2 separate regions of the Homo sapiens genome follow, and region 1 is linked to region 2. The links come from fine-mapping of genetic effects on gene expression. A gene starts in region 2. The other region holds a variant in brackets. All regions are shown on one strand. Distances are between the middles of the regions. Region 1 has its middle 22 kb from the start of MRPL36. Region 2 holds the start of MRPL36 (mitochondrial ribosomal protein L36).

Evidence for each region. PIP is the estimated chance that this variant, and not a neighbour inherited with it, causes the effect.
Region 1: its variant is fine-mapped to the expression of MRPL36 in whole blood (INTERVAL, PIP above 0.99).

The regions. Positions count from the first base shown.
Region 1 is chr5:1,775,190-1,779,575 of GRCh38, forward strand. No RefSeq gene overlaps it. Among named protein-coding and RNA genes, the nearest start is that of MRPL36, 22 kb to the right of the region's middle. The variant A/G (reference allele first, on the strand shown) is at 2,449.
Region 2 is chr5:1,797,227-1,801,612 of GRCh38, forward strand. MRPL36 (mitochondrial ribosomal protein L36) reads right to left here and starts at 2,611. Exons shown (of 2, transcript NM_032479.4): 1 at 2,566-2,611; 2 at 1,159-1,721. The coding sequence starts at 1,709. The coding sequence ends at 1,398. NDUFS6 (NADH:ubiquinone oxidoreductase subunit S6) reads left to right here and starts at 4,181. Exons shown (of 4, transcript NM_004553.6): 1 at 4,181-4,323. The coding sequence starts at 4,192. RefSeq lists a silencer at 2,081-2,490 and enhancers at 3,571-3,620, 3,681-3,810, 3,990-4,386.

The DNA of each region.
Region 1 (4,386 bases), 22 kb before region 2:
CACTGCACTTCAGCCTAAGCAACAGAATGAGACTCTTTCTCAAGGAAAAAAACAAAAGATTAATAAAATTGAAAATCCCTTAACAAGACTGATTATTTAAAAAAAAAAAAGGCAAGACAAATCATCAATGTCAGGAACCAGGAAGGGGCATCACAACAGGTCCTGCAGACACGCAAAGGGTAATGAGTGATGACACGAACAATTTCATGCTGATGCATTCGACAGCTTAGATAAAATGGACAAATTCCCTGAGAGACACACATTACCAAAATAAACCCAGGCAAAAATAGAAAATTTAAATCGCCCTATATTTGTTAAAGATATTAATTCATAATTAAACTCCTTATAAAGAAAATTCCAGGCCCAAACAACTTCATTAGTAAATTCCATCTAGTGTGTAAGAAAGAAGTAACATCTATTCTATATAAACTCATAAACTAGAGGAGGAACTATCATTTCCTAAAGTATTTTATGACGTTACTATAACCAGAATTCAAAAACCAGACAAAGGCATTATAAGGTCAGAAATTGACAGACCAATAGCCTTCATAAGCATAGATGCAAAAATCACTAACAAAACATAAGCATATCAAATTCAGCAATAAGTAACAAGAATAAGATATCATGATTAAGTTGGACCACTTAATCATGATTCTAGAAAATTCCAGAAATGCAACATCTGTTTAACATAAGAGAATAAATCAATGTAGTTCACCAAATTAACTAAAGAAGAAAAATTATATTGTCATTTCAATAGATGCAAATCAATTATTTGAGAAAATATAACACCGTTTTATAACTTAAAAACTCTTAGCAAATGTTGGTAGAAAATAGTTGGTAAATTTTTCAACCTGATAAAGAGCTCTTACCGCTTCTTCTCAGTATAGTACAAGAGGTACTAGCCACTGCAGTAAGACATGAATGGGAAATGGAAGTCATATTAATCCAAAATAAAGAAGTAAAAGTGCTGAGGGAAAGAAGCTGAATGCCAACTAGTTTATACTGAATTATTCCATTTACATGAAAGTCTTGAACAGGTAAGACTAAACTTTGTTGTTGTTGGTTGTTTGTTGTTGACGAGATCAGATTCATGGGAACATGTGGGCAGTGATGGGAAAAGGTGTCGGGAGCCTGCGTCACACCTGGGGCCTGTTGAAGTGACTGAACAGCACTCCGAAGGCATGAGCACGTCCCTGTATGGAAATCATTTCTCAGTTTCCAAGAATATCCACATTGGTTTTTCTACAAATGGTGGGATTTTATTTAATCATATTTTATTGTTCAATCCTTTTTTTATTTGTAAGTTTTCTGAAATGACTATGTATTACATTGGTAAATCAAAATATTAACTAATCCAATGTAGTCCAAACAGTAAAAATACGACCTAAAATTATCTCAAGGTATAAATGCTTAGCAAAGAGTGATGTAGGGCCTAGCTCTCTTCTGAGCTATTTGATGAGCTCTTTCTAGAAGATGTTCTTACAATGAACTTGGGTAACAGAAGAAAGGATTCATAATCATAATGAAGGCCTGGGGCTGGGAGGGCATCTGGTCAATAAGAAATTGGCCCCTAAACCTCGAAGGTCCAGGCCCGAGGTTGGTCAGTTACTCCTCTCAGGTCAGCCTTGGAGGCAGCTGCCTTGTATTGGCTTCTTGACTCTTTGTTCTTCCTCTTCTCCATGTGTTTTGGGTCACAGTTCCTTTCTTCCTAAGTTTCACAAAGTCCTCACTGAGGTCTTCCTCCTGCCATGTCCTCAGTTACCTCCTGGGCTCAGCCTCGCAGGAGGAGCTCCCTCTGTTGCTGCTCCCCTGGGCATCGGGCATCTGGCATCTTCAAACACCACATGGCCTTCCAGTTCTTCTCCCATCCCCACCCACCCATGCCTCCGTGGGGAGGGCGGCAACTCTCCCAGGTCTTTGCCTCTGGAGGGCTGAGGCCCCACTCTCTTCCCAGGATTTGTGCCAATTGCTTTGGTGACACAGACACATGGGATCCCGTCTGTCCTGTCACTCCCTGTCCCCTCTCGGAGCTTCCTTTTTTTCTGACCCCTTCTGGATGCATTCAGGGCAGGACACAGTGGGCAGTGGGAGCTGCGAGGAGCCTCTGAGCACATGGAGCTGTCTCCTCCAGGACTGTCCTGAGGGGCAGTGGACACAGCCCACAGCAGACACCGGCCTTGCTGAGCAGGGAGACTAAGGACAGCAGCCTGGTGAGACCAGGAGCTCGGCTGAGAAAAGCCGCGCCCTCTCCGGGGAAAGCCCTGCGCCTCCCGTGCGGCGTCTGTTATGGTGGATGCCGCCGGCAGAGAGCGACACTGTGGACTAAGCCGTGTCCTCCAAAGTCATAGGTGAGGCCCCAGCCCCCACGGGACTGTATCTGGAGCTAGGACATTAGGGAGGGAATTAAGGTTAAATGAGGTTGTGAGGAGGGCCCTGACCCGATAGGAC[A/G]TGTCCTTGTAAGAAGAGAAATCGACACCAGGGATGCGCGTGCGCAGAGGAGTGGCCGTGGGAGGACACGGGAGAAGCCACAGTCTGTAGGCCATGAAGAAGCCTCGGGAGAAACCGCCCAGTGGCCCCTTGGTCTTGAACTCCCGGCCCCCAGACTGGGAGGGAACAGTTTCTGGTGTTGAAGCCCCGGCCCGTGGTACTTTGTTACAACTGCCTGAGCCAACAAGGCCAGATGAAGAGGAAGGACAGCAGTGTGCCAGGTGTGTGTGGGCCTTGCACAGCCGGGGAGGCTCTGGTGTCAGGAGGTCCTGTCTTCAGCCTGGCTGGGTAGTGCTGGTGAGTCAGCTGACATCCGGGGCTCTGTGTTCATTGTCTACCTTGTGGGCAGCAAAGCAGATGACCCTCCTGCATTGAAGCCCCCTGGGCCTCTGGTCACCCAGAAGTCAGAGTCGGGAGACACACACCTGCTGTCCATACCTGCTGCCCTGGTGCGACTGCAAAGAAAGGCAGAGACCCAGGGGCATCGGCTATGGCACCAGGATGCAAAACACCAAGTGCCTCTCCCTCCCTGGGAACACTGGCAAAGGTGCAGCGAGCCACAGCCTGGCGTGAAGATGAGGGTTGGTCTGGGCCGTGCTTGCCTGAGCAGCCCAGGGTTTCCTGTGCCCTCCAGCTGAAAGCTGGGGGCCTGTGGGGTGACCCAGGCTGCAACGGTCACAATGAGGGCAGCACTGGCTGTCACTGTCTGTCCCAAGCAAGCCCTTTGTCTCTGAGAGGGCAGGGTGCATGTGTGTGCATGTGTGTTACGGGCACCTTCCCAGCAGGAAAGCGACATGCCAGCTCCCCTCACCCCCCTCGGGGGGCCAGTTTCCACGGTCTCAGCTTGGTTGGGGGTATGGGCGCTCCCTTGCCCTAACCCCTGGGGGAGCCCATTTTCCCAGACACAAGGACAAATCAGGCCGGCTCAGCTGGGGACAGCCAATTTCCTGCATTTATTTGTTTCTCCCGAAAGAAGGCTTCTGTTTGGTTCTAATGAGTAGCTTTTCCTAAAGAGAAACAATAATAACAGCAGAAACGTAAGTGGATTCTGTAAACTTGTAATCATACGTGTCAAACACAGTGTGGTATTTTCCCCCGCAAAATAGAAATGGTGGGAAGTCATACAGAGTGGGTGCGGGAAATTGTGTTTTCTCTGACAGAAGTTAATTCTAAACTAAGTATTCCCTGAAAGGAAAGCAGGGAAACATTTTTACATGTCTATCATTCGTCCTTAGAGGACACAAAACAAATATGTTTTTTAATGCTTGACACCAGCATTATTCCGGGTGGCCTCGGGCTATATGCTGTTTTCCAGTTTGTAGAATTGGAGGAGAGGAAAACAGCCCTGCATTAAGAGGAACATATTGTACAGGTTAATCATAAGCACGCAGAAATCAGAGTGCTGCCAGCCGGCAGGACGGAAGGCCTGGGCGCCAGGAGTTGCGGGAAGGCAAGGAGGCGGAGGTGGCAGCAACGAGGGGCCAGACCAGGGTCACTGCCCCGGTGGCAAACGCTTGTGGATGTGCCATGGGCTGGAGCTCTTTTGGGTCCCTCTCCATCAGGAAGCCGCCCTTCACAGGTCTCCCAACAATGCTTACGTGCAGAAGGAAGCTCCTTGGAAAGCCGAGGGTCATTTAATCAGAGTCCATTCCCCAAGAAGTCCCCGTCGAGGAGCACTTAGGCAGTCAGGTCCTGAGAGGCAGACGGCACCATCAGGGCCAAGGCACCGGGGCTGTCCCAGATCCTCCTGCGAATGTGGTGGGAATTACGACTGCTCCGCAAAGTGAGCCCAGACGCACACATTGCATAAAAGCGTAGCGGCCGCAGGGCCGAGGTTCCGGAGGGCACTTGTTGCTTCGGGGTGTGTGTGGCCCCACCTCGGGGTCTCTTATCCAGCTT
Region 2 (4,386 bases):
AAGAACGGCTCGAGAGAGGGCTTCCCTTTCACTGCACAACAGAAGCAGGCTCTTCGCAGAGCTGGTTCCCTTTTCTTTCAGGTAATAACGCTCTCCACCTTCTTCAACTGGCCAGACGCCTGCGGGCTGCAATGCCCATGTCAAGCTGCTTGCAGAGGCCCTTTGTGAGGGTGAATGGGCACAGCACAGAGTTCACAGCAACACACACCGGCGTCTGCTCCCCCTGGAGAAGTGATGTGGGTGCTGGGGAGGAGCTTTGGCCCTCATGTGGCCATGCTGCCCCCTCTGCCGCCCCACCAGGCCTTTCTGGGTGACCCTGCTGCGCCCCTGCTGCTGATCTGGGCAGGAGGGCGCTCCCCCCGCGCTAGGCTTCTTGCGTGGTCTCCTGTCTCACAAAACTCCTTTCTGGGAGAAGGGGAGGTGTCCCTGGCCAGGAGGAAAGGAGCCGTGAGAAGGCTGTCGCATCTCAGCATCTGCTCTGGGTTGGACTGTGCTCCCCACCCCCAAATTCATGTTGATGACAGTGCTCCCCCAAGGCATGGGGCTCACTCAACTATGAATCCCGATGACCAGGGAAGGACCAGCCCACTCCATCCCTCCAAGTCCTTACCAGTTGTAGGTGTGGTCATCCTCTAGCAAGGGGAGCTCCTTGCCTCCCCCTGAATCTGGGCTCACCCTAGGGACTGAAAGAGTGCGGTAGAAATGACACGCTGGAATTTCTGAGGCTGGGTCATAGGAAGCCTCGTAGCATCTGCTTGGGTCTCTCGGGACACTCTCGGGAAGCTCACTGTGGGGCAGTGCAAGCCACGCTGTGGGCCCTGCCTGAGGAGGTGCTACGTACAGCCTGAGGAGCACTGAGACCCCAGACAGGAGAGCCGGTGCCATCTTGGAAGTGGGTCCTGCAGTTAATGCCACACAGATCAGACAAACTGCTCAGCTGAGCCCATCCCAAATGCCTCACAAAATCGTGAACAATGTAAAATGGCTGATTTAAGCCACCAAGCCTTGGCTTGTACAGCGACGGGTGACCAAAACACCACTTCTTCCAAGAGGCTCTAAGCAGCCTCACGGAGACATAGAGAAGTCCTGCCCAGCCTCACCCAGCACCATCCAATCCCTACCTGCAGCCTGAGTTCAGAGAGAATGAATGAACTAAGCTATTCGGAAGGTCTATTTTAATAGGAAAATGTTTTTTAGTTGGAACGTTTTGGAAATAAGATAACGCAATGTCTTCTATAGTTACTCATTTACACTGAAACGTGATGGGTAACTTTTAGGGCGTTTGCTTCCAGTCACTTTCCCCTGACTCCTTGATGTGATAATTCCTTCCATAAGATACAACCATTCTCCCAAGTGATGCGATGACGAGTATGTGCGTGACTCTGGAGGGAAAGGGTCTACATCTGTCTCTGCTTGTGCCTCGGATGGGTTTTACAGTAGACGTACCACCGACCCCGCCTCTTCACCAGGTAACAGTCCTTGCAGCGCTTCTTAAGGACAGTCTTGTTTTTGAACCCCAGCGCAGGCAGCAGATGGGGCAGGAGGCCGGGTGAGAGAAGTGAGCGCACTGCTGCCCCGGGTTCCACAGCCACGGGGGCTGCACCTCGAATGGATCCAAATAGAAATGTGGAGAGGGCTCGAGGCTTCACCGTGTGACGACTGAGATAGAGCAGAGGGTTCACCATTTTCCTTATAAAAAGATTTGCCATGTTGTGGTGAATCTATGGGAGAGAGAAAAAAAGGAGTTATAGCTTCTCCTGCACTTCCACCTGCTCTTTAAGGCTTCCTTTTCTCTGTTTCACTGAGGCTTGGGAAGGCAGGGACCTCGGGGACTGAGGGTGTTCCCATACCAGCTGCAGCCTCGACCTGAGCTTGAACACTGCCTTAATCAGCCAAGTGTGCCAGGAGAATAAGGGGCAGTGGACGGTGGCTTCCTTCCCTTTCCCGCCTGCTGCAAGTGTAGGTGAGTGTGCAAAGCCCTGCGATGTTGAGGAGCCGCTCACTTGGCTGGGAGGGAGCTTAAACTTAGGCCGCATCCCTTTCCAAACAGACACCAGGTCAAGGACGGTTCAACTGATGAGCTCCTCCCTCCAACTCTTCCCAGACCCAGGGGCCCTCCCTCGGGCCAGTTTCGGGACAGGCCCCCGCTCCGGAAGAGCACGGAACTCTGGCACCCCGGTCGCCCGCCCCTGCTTCCCCACGCGCCCCGGCCCTTAGGGTTCAGCGGCCCCGGCTGGGAAGAGCTGGGCCTGCAGGGCCCGGAGGACACTGCGGCACCGGAGCCGGCCCTGCGCGCGGGCTGTGAGGTCGCGTTCGGGAGCCGCCAGTTCTCCCGCCCCGGGGTCGCTGGACACCCCCTCCTGTCGCCAGGTCGGGCGCCCACGGTCGGACCCGCACCCCCCAACCCTGGCCCTCTGAGACCGCCAGGCCCCGGCCCACGCTCCTCTGACCGCAGCCCACTCGGGGAGACACGCCCGAGGGTCCCAAGGTGGCCGGCCCCACCCTCTCGCAGCCCCCACTCTCAAGACACCCGGGACCCCTGACCTGAGAAGACGGCTCCCTTACCCGGCCGCACGCTCTCACCCGGCGCCGACCCCTGCGTCTGCGCACTGGCACGCGGACGCTGCTGCCAGGAAGGAAGATGGCGGCGGGGGGGGGGGTCACGTGGCGTGCCCACGTCCAGTGCGGGGCGCAGAGACGCAGCAGCGAGTGCGCAGGCGCTGGAGTGCGACGTATCACTCCCCGACTGCGCGCACTCTGCGGGCCACCGGGATCGTCGTGCTGTTTGGAGCGCTCTCGGGAAAAAAAATGCAAAAACCAGGAACGAAAATGGATATCCGCAACGAAAAAGAAATTACAACCACTTAGGCCTTAGAAAAAACTGGCAAATACCAATGTCAAAACAAACTGAGAAAGAGGACATGTTTTTAAGTGGACAGGAGAAATGTAAACAGGCTCCGGGAAACGAGTGGAGACGGGCAGTAGTTTCAACTGGTTACGGCTGTTTTCCCCAACATTATGAAAAACTTCGGACATAGAGAAAAAGGGAAAGAACTGTACGGTGAACACCCATATACTTGCCACCTAGATTCTACCCTTAGCTCGCTTATCCCTGCCTTTTCAGGTATCTACCCGTAACTCCATTCGCCTTCCTTTTTGTGTGTGTCCGGGTGAGTTGCAGACGTGGCTGCGTCCACTCCGCGCTCCCTGCAGGCCCCAACGCTTCATCGCAGCGCCCACTTTTTCCACCTGACCCGGCGAACACCGGGCGGGCCGCTGGAGTTTATCAGCTCCAGGACAAATCTGCCTCTGACCACCACGTTTGCTGGGACATCTTTGGGACCGGAGGTTTTCATGTGCATTCTTGTTTCTCATGCCTTTCCTCCTCTTTATCATCTTCCCCGCCACTCATCCATCTCTAGTGTTTTGTTCTTGGAGTCACGTGGTCCTCAGGCTCTGACCACAGCAAAAGAAAAGCTGGATGCTGGAGCTTAAGCTGGGATTTATACCCAAGTCAACTCTAAGCAAAACGGGCCTTTTTAGAGGCTGTATTTGCATGCTGTAAAATCAGTCGGTGTACTAGGCTTTGTTGCAGAAATCCCCAATATACGTTTCCTCTGCGGCTCCCCGTAACCACACACAGGAACGCTTGCCTTGAACGAGGAGAATGCACTTCCAGTCTCGTCTGCTAAGCAGTTGACTCCTTCACCCAATAATTTTGATATTTAAATGTCTCATGATTATCGGTTACCATAAGAATATAAACAATGTATTTTCAGTTTACATCCTCCCCTGCCTGTCCGCTAAATAAGAACCACTGGGTACTCCTAATCGCTGAAGGTTTCGCACACCATTGCCTGCCTCATCAGGGCCCTAGCTCTAGCCTGCGGCTGCAACTGCATGAGGCTGCACCTGCCGGCGCAACGGGGCCGCTTAACTTTTAGGCCATTGATGAAAAGTCAAACAAGCGCACAGTACTCGGTGTAATCAGGGGCATTTTTAGCGAGATACCTGGGATGAAAACGGGTGACCACCTGAATCAGAGAGCAGCTCCGGCGCACCCTCTGCCCCGACCCGCGCTCCCCGCCCCCAGGGCGAAATAAATACCGGGTGTTTGGCGCCGCCAGAAGCCGTGCGCATGCGTTAGCGCTAAGCGGGACGTTGCGCCGGGTCAAAGGCCAGCGGCGCAAAATGGCGGCGGCGATGACCTTCTGCCGGCTGCTGAACCGGTGTGGCGAGGCGGCGCGGAGCCTGCCCCTGGGCGCCAGGTGTTTCGGGGTGCGGGTCTCGCCGACCGGGGAGAAGGTCACGCACACTGGCCAGGTAACGGCCGCTGGGTACAGGATGCACCTTCCTCCAGCCGCACCTCGGGCGACTGGTGGCAGT